2 linked regions of the Homo sapiens genome follow. The protein of the gene in region 2 interacts with the protein of the main gene of each other region in a biochemical or structural test. Each region holds a gene or a part of one and is shown on either strand. Other genes may lie near its edges.

What was found. The genes of interacting proteins can lie anywhere in the genome.
Region 1: the proteins of SPTBN4 (region 2) and ARC form a complex in vitro, tested with the Homo sapiens proteins (one study listed by BioGRID).

Annotation. Positions count from the first base shown.
Region 1 is NC_000008.11:142,612,948-142,616,691, forward strand, and holds the start of ARC (activity-regulated cytoskeleton-associated protein), read right to left. Parts: upstream 1,533-3,744; 5' UTR 1,325-1,532; coding exon 134-1,324; 3' UTR 1-133.
Region 2 is NC_000019.10:40,469,867-40,473,610, forward strand, and holds part of SPTBN4 (spectrin beta chain, non-erythrocytic 4), read left to right. Parts: intron 1-2,740; 5' UTR 2,741-2,755; coding exon 2,756-2,924; intron 2,925-3,744.

The DNA.
Region 1 (3,744 bases), on a different chromosome or scaffold from region 2:
TCCGCCCGGAGCTCGAGGGGGCACCCAGCTGGACCAGGGCTTCCCCTGCAGGAGTCAGCCCCAGCTCAAAAGTCCTGGTGGGCAAAGCCACAGGCTGGATGTAGTGGGCAGGCTGGGGGCTCCGGGATGCCCTCTACTCGGGCTGGGTCCGGTCACTGGCCACGGACTCGCTGTTGGGGGCGGGCGTGAGGGTCTCCGCCTCATCCTCCACCGGGAGGTGGGGGCCGGCCGGCTCGGCCGCCTGCTCCAGGTCATCCTGCACCTCCATGCCCCTCTGGATGAGCTGCTCCAGGGTCTTGGGCAGGGGGTGGCGCAGGAAACGCTTGAGCTTGGGCTGCAGGGTGCCCACCACGTACTGGATGATCTCCTCCTCGTCCGCGTCCACGTAGAGCGTCTGGTACAGGTCCCGCTTGCGCCACAGGAACTGGTCCAGCGGCTCGCCCTGCTTCTGCGGCAGGTCCAGCTCGCGCTGGATGGCCTCTCGGGACAGCGTGCCCTCGCTGTACTGCAGGAACTCCTTCTTGAACTCCACCCAGTTCTTCACGGAGCCCTGCTTGAACTCCCACCACTTCTTGGCCGGCCCGTTCATGTGATTCTGGATCTGGGACAGCCAGTACTCCTCAGAGCCGCCCACCTGCCGCAAGTACTCCTCTAGGTGGCTCAGGAACTCTCGAGGGTCCTCGAAGATCTGCGTGTCCACGCCGGGGCTGGGCTGCCCGTCCTCGCCGGGGACCCACGGCTGGTACTGCTGGGCCTCGGCGGGCTCCTGCCCGGGCAGCTCGCCAGCGGCTGGGGGCGGGGTGATGGCGTAGGGGCTGACGGTGTAGTCGTAGCCGTCTGCCTCGTGGCAGTAGCTCTCGGGACCCCCCACGCCCACGGAAACGGTGTGGCGGGCTGACTCGCTGCCCACCGGGTACTTGCCGCCCGTGGACTCCAGGCGGTCGGCCCAGCGCTCCAGGCGGTAGAACACCTCGCGCCACACGTGCATCTCGCGCTTGACCCAGCGCTCCAGGTTGGCGATGGTCTCCTGGCAGCGGCACAGGCAGGCCTTGATGGACTTCTTCCAGCGCTGCGAGTCGCTCGTGGGCACGTAGCCGTCCAGGTTGCTCTCCAGCTTCCCGACCGACCGGTGCAGCCCCTTCAGCTCGCGCTCCACCTGCTTGGACACCTCGGCCAGCAGGTGCCGGTGCGTCCGCCGCACGTGCTCCAGCATCTCGGCCCGGCACTTCCCGATCTGCAGGATCACGTTGGGCTTGGCCACCTGCCCGCCCCGCGGCCCGGGGTAGGCGTGGAGCCCGCCGCTGGTCCGGTGGTCCAGCTCCATCTGTGCGCAGGTGCTCCGGCAGGCGGCAAACTCCTCGGGGCGGACAGAGGGTGGTCCGGCGCTGGGGTCCGGCGGCCTGGGTCCCGTGCGGAGCTGCGGGGAGCGCCTGTCTGTCGCTGCGGGCCGGCGGCGGGGCCGGCGGAGCACGCCCGGGGAGGCAGGTCCGGCTCGGCTGCTGCGGAGGGAGGACGCCGCGCCCGAGCTCTGCGCTGAGTCCTGGCCGCCGGCTCTTTATGCAGCCAGCGAGGCCCGTGGGCGGCCGGCTCGCCGAGCCCGGTTTCTCATTGGCCCAGCCGCAGGCTCCCCGCCAGCGCCCCGCCCGCGCCCCTGCAGGCCCCGCCCTGCGCCCACTCGGCTCCCGGGCGGCAAGGGACGGGAGGTCCCACCCCCTGCACACATGGCGGGGCCAGGATGACTAATCCCTCCGCTCCGTACCTCCCACCCCGGACGGCGGGGCTCATTCAGCCTGCGGGGACCGAGGGACTGAGCCGGGCACTGGGCGCCCCTCCCACGCCCCCTCCCGGGCGCTGGGCGGGCTGTCATCTGCTGCCTCCCAGGGTCCCAAGGTGGCCTTCCTCCTCTCCACTCGCCTCTCTCTTTGCGGGGCTGGAGGGGGCTGGCGCTGGCCACTGCTCTCCTGGGTCCTCACTGCCCCTGACCCCGCCCACCCAGCTCTGCAGGATGTGCAGCTGAGCCCGGGAAGGACCCTCACCATCAGCCTCTGTGCCCAGGGGCTCAGCAAGTCTCCATGTGAGCTCCCAGATGTGGCTTTGAGCTCCCACTCACTCCTGCCCGGGTCCTGAGTCCAGGTCTTGGGCTCTGTGTGAGGGACGCACAGCCAGGCAGAGGCTCGCTCTGCCTGGCCCTGGCGTTGGTGTGCATGGGTGACAGGGGCCCACGTGGCAGTGACTGGACAGGGCTGCCCCATGCCCCCATACGCAGGTCTCTGGTGAGGCCCAATACTTTTCTGTGTTTCCAGGGAAATCTGGCAGCTGCTACCTGGGGGGCTGGGGTTTGGAGGACATGGAGGGGACATTTAGCCCCCAGTGAAGGGAATTGGGCCCTGAAGACCCTGGCTATATCAAGAACCTGGCCAGAGGCTCCAAGACTTCTAAGGGGATGGAAGAGGGGAGGAGAGAGGGAGACAGGGAGGGAGGTGGAAGGAGGGAAAGGAGAAGGGGAGGGAGGAGAGGCGAGGAGGGAGAGGGAGGGGGGCCGGTGCTGGCAGCACAGTGCCATCAGGAGAGGCAGAGGGAAGCCAAGCACCATATAAGGAGCGGGGCTCCGGAAGCCGAGACTCCCTCGGGAGGGAGGTCCCTTCTGCCTCCCTGGCAACCTGGCGGGGGTAGGGACGCCCTTCCTGAGTTACTCCAGTGCTGGCTGGATAGGCATGGGTCTCAGGTCCTCTGATGTTACCCAGGCAGGGGTGACACACACCATTCCCCACAGCCAGAGGGCCATGAGGACATCATCGCTGACAATCAAGACATCTTGTTCCTGCTGCCAGCTGCCCTTTCCCTCTCTCAGACACACACATGCTGCACACTCACACCCCCACATACACACTCATAGCCCCCACTCTAACCCCACCCCACACACTCATGCCCTCACTCACAGCCCCCACACACACTCATACCCCCCACTCATAGCTCCCACATACACACTCATACCCCCCACTCATAGCTCCCACATACACACTCATACCCCCCACTCACAGCCCTCAGCTCCCCCCAGCATCCCCTGTCTTATTCAGGCACTCAAGGGCACACAGGTGCCCACTTGCTGGAATCCCCCCTCCCTGCCAACCCTCTGAGCCCCCCCCCAACCGGCTCTCCCGGGGAGCCCTCTCCCAGCCTCAGAGCCAGTCTGTCTCCTCCTTCCTTCCGCCCCTGGGGGGGAATGTCTTTCTGGCAAAAAAACTCCCCAAAAATGGCTCTCCTGGCATTTCTAATTAAAGGTAAGTGGGCGGACAGAGAAGGGAGGGCGGAGGGGCACCGCGGAGCTGGGAGGGGGAGCCAGGCAGAGAAGTCTCCAGCACAGGGACCTTCCCGCTTCTCCACTGCGGAATCCCAGGGAGAGGAGCTGGGTGGGCACATGCGGGACGGGCAGACGCCAGCAGCCTTGGGTGAGTGCAGCCAGCGGTCACCGAGGGCCACATGTCCGGGTTGGGGCCAGCCTGAGCCTGTAGGTGTTGTCTGGGTGCTGGGCACTGACCGTGCATGTGTGTCCATTGTGAGAGCCAGCACTTCAATGACCAGGGGCCAGCCCCGCCAGGGTTTACAAGCCCGTGTGGCCTCTGACGTCCCCGCCAGGGCACAGCTCTTAGGCCTCTGGCCAGCAGTGGCCTCCAGCTGCCACCCCCACCCAAGGCATCAGCAAGCTGACAAGGAGGCAGGACTGGGGACACGTGAGCCAAGGTC
Region 2 (3,744 bases):
CTCCTGACCTCAGGTGATTCACCCACCTTGGCCTCCCAAAGTGCTGGGATTACAGGTGTGAGCCACTGTGCCCGGCCAATTTCTTCTTTTTTTAAATAATTTTTTGTTTTCTATTTTTTTATTTTCATTTAATTTAATTTTATTTTTTCTGAGATGGGGTCTCACTCTGTCGCCCAGGCTGGAGTGCAGTGGCACGATCTCAGCTCACTGCAACCTCTGTCTCCCAGGTTCAAGCGATTCTACTGTCTCAGTCTCCTGAGTAGCTGGGATTATAGGTGCACAATGCCATGCCTGGCTAATTTCTTGTATTTTAGTAGAGATGGAGTTTCACCAAGTTGCCCAGACTGGTCTCGAACCCCTGAGCTCAGGCAATCCACCCGCCTTGGCCTCCCTAAGTGCCAGGATAACAGGCATGAGCCACCGTGCCCGGCCTATTTTTATTTTTTTATTTTTGTTTGAGATGGTGTCTCGCCCTGTTGCCCAAGCCGGAGTGCAGTGGTGCCATCTTGGCTCACTGCAACCTCTGCCTTCCCAGGTTCAAGCGATTCTCCTGCCTCAGCCTCCTGAGTAGCTGGGATTGCAGGCATGCACTACCATGCCCAGCTCATTTTTGTATTTTTAGTAGAGATGGGGTTTCACCATGTTGGCCGGGCTGGTCTTGAACTCCTGACCTCAAGCGATCTGCCTGCCTTGGCCTCCCAAAGTGCTGGGATTACAGGTATGAGCCACTGTGCCTGCCCCCTCCACTTTAAATTTTTCTTCTTCTTCTTCTTCTTTTTTTCTTGAGAATGAGTCTTACTCTGTCGCCCAGGATAGAGTGCAGTGGCACAATCTCAGCTCATTGCAACCTGCGCCTCCTGGGTTCAAACGATTCTCCTCCCTCAGCCTCCTGAGTAGCTGAGATTACAGTAGCCCGAAACCACACCCAGCTAATTTTTGTATTTTCAGTAGAGACCGGGTTTCACCATGTTGGCCAGGCTGGTCTCGAACTCCTCACCTCGTGATCCGCCTGCCTCGGCCTCCCAAAGTGCTGGGATTACAGGCAGGACCCACTGTGCCCAGCCCCATTAATGCAAATATTCTATCACCTTTTTTTTTTTTGAGACGGAGTCTTGCTCTGTCTCCCAGGCTGGAGTGCATTGGCATGATCTCGGCTCACTGCAGCCTCCACCTCCCAGGTTCAAGTGATTCTCCTGCCTCAGCCTCCTGAATACCTGGGATTACAAGTGTGTGACACCACGCCCAGCTAATTTTTGTATTTTTAGAGACAGGGTTTCACCATGTTGGCCAGGCCGGTCTTGAACTCCTGACCTCAGGTGATCTACCCATCTCAGCCCCAAAAAGTGCTGGGATTACATGCATGAGCCACCGCGCCTGGCCCTATCATCTATGTTTGAATCCTAGATACTAACTGGCTGTGTAACCTTGGAAAAATAGATCAACTCCTCTGTGCCTCAGTTTCCTCCTCTGTAAAATAGGTGTAATAATAGCCAACTGTTAGGGAATTAAATTTGTGGAAATAATAAGAGAAGGTACATGAAGTACTGACCACAGTGCAAGTGTTCAATATGTTCATTATTGTTATTACTGCATTACAGAACTCTATTGTTCTAATAATAACAGTGACAATTTGCTGAGCCCTTAATATGTGCCAGGGGCTAAGCCATGTGTTTTATCACATCCTGTGAAGTGGTGAGGGTGAACATTATTATTATTATTATTTAGAAATAGGGTATCGCCATATTGCCCAGTTTGGAGTGCAGTGTCACTATTATAGATCACTGTAGCCTTGGCTTCTTGGGCTCAAGCCATCTTCCTGCCTCAGCCTCCTAAATAGCTGGGACTACGGGTGGCAACCACCACATTTGGCTAATTTTTAAATTTTTTTAAAAGACAGTTTCTGGCTCTGCTGCCCAGGCTGGAGTGCAGTGGCGCTATCTTGGCTCACTGCAACCTCCACTTCACAGGCTCAAGCCATCCTCACACCTCAGCCTCCTGAGTAGCTGGGATTACAGGCACGTTGCCACCACATCCAGCTATTTTTTTTTTTTTTTTTTTTTTGAGACAGAGTTTCGCTTTTGTTGCCCAGGCTGGAGTGCAATGGCATGATCTTGGCTCACCACAACCTCCGCCTCCCGGGTTCAAGCGCTTCTCCTGCCTCAGCCTCCCGAGTAGCTGGGATTACAGGCATACTCCACCTCGCCTGGAGAATTTTGTATTTTTATTAGAGACAGCGTTCTCCATGTTGGTCAGGCTGATCTCGAACTCCCAACCTCAGGTGATCCGCCCGCCTCTGCCTCCCAAAGTGCTGGGATTATAGGTGTGAGCCACCGTGCCTGGCCAATTTTTGTATTTTTTTGTAGAGACAGGGTTTCACCATGTTGCCCAGGCTTGTCTCGAACTCCTGGGCTCAAGCAATCCGCCCTCCTCAGCCTCTCAAAGTGTTGGGATTATAGGCCTGAGCCACTGCGCCTGGCTTATTTTTATTTTTATAGAGATGAAATCTTGCTATGTTGCCCAGGCTGGTCTCCAACCCCTGGGCTCAAGCGATTCTCCTGCCTCTGCCTCCCAAAGTGCTGGGATTACAGGCATGAGCCACTGTGCCTAGGCCTTATCATTGTTATTATGTCCACTTTAAAGACAGAGAAATTGAGGACAAGAGAGGGGACAGGACTCAAAGCCAGTCACTGTTAGAAATGAGACTTGATCCTAGACCTAACCTACCTCTCCCTATGTCCAGGCCTCACCTTCCCCGATGGCGCAGGTACCAGGGGAAGTGGACAACATGGAGGGCCTGCCTGCTCCTAACAACAACCCTGCTGCCCGCTGGGAGAGTCCGGATCGGGGCTGGGAGCGGGAGCAGCCGGCTGCGTCCACCGCAGCGGCCTCGCTCTTTGAGTGCTCCCGGATCAAGGCCTTGGCAGGTACCTGGAGGAGGGCTGGGGTGGGATGAGGAGGAGGGGGAAGGGGGAAGGGTGCCCGAGAACCTTGGTGGCTGGGAGGGTGGGAAAAGAGACCAGCACTGTCCAATAGAACTTTCCATGATGGTGGAAATAGTCTATATCCATAATGTACCATATAATAATCACTAGTCTCTGTGACTTTTGAATGCTAGAAATGTGGCCAGTGCTATGTGACAGCCTTTGAGTTTTAAATTTTATTTAGTTTTAATTAAATTTATTTATATATATATTTTTTGAGACAGAGTCTTATTCTGTTGCCCCGGCTGGGGTGTAGTGGTGAGATCTTGGGTCACTGCAATCTCCACCTCACCGGCTCAAGCCATCCTCCTACCTCAGCCCCCTGACTAGCTGGGACTACAGGTGCCCGCCACCACACCCGGCTAATTCTTTTTGTATTTTTAGTAGACACCGGGTTTCACTGTGTTTGCCAGGCTGGTTTTGAACTTCTGATCTTAAGTGATCCACTTGCTTTGGCTTCCCAAAGTGCTGGGATTACAGGCATGAGCCACTGCACCTGGCCTGGTGTTTTTTTTTTTTTTTTTTTTGAGACGGAGTTTCGCTCTTGTTGCCCAGGCTGGAGTGCAGTGGCGCGATCTCGGCTCACCGCAACCTCCACCTCCCAGGTTCAAGCGATTCTCCTGCCTCAGCCTCCCTAGTAGCTGGGATTACAGGCATGTGCCACCACGCCCAGCTAATTTTGTATTTTTACTAGAGACGGGGTTTCTCCATGTTGGTCAGGCTGGTCTCGAACTCCCAACCTCAGGTGATCCACATGTCTCGG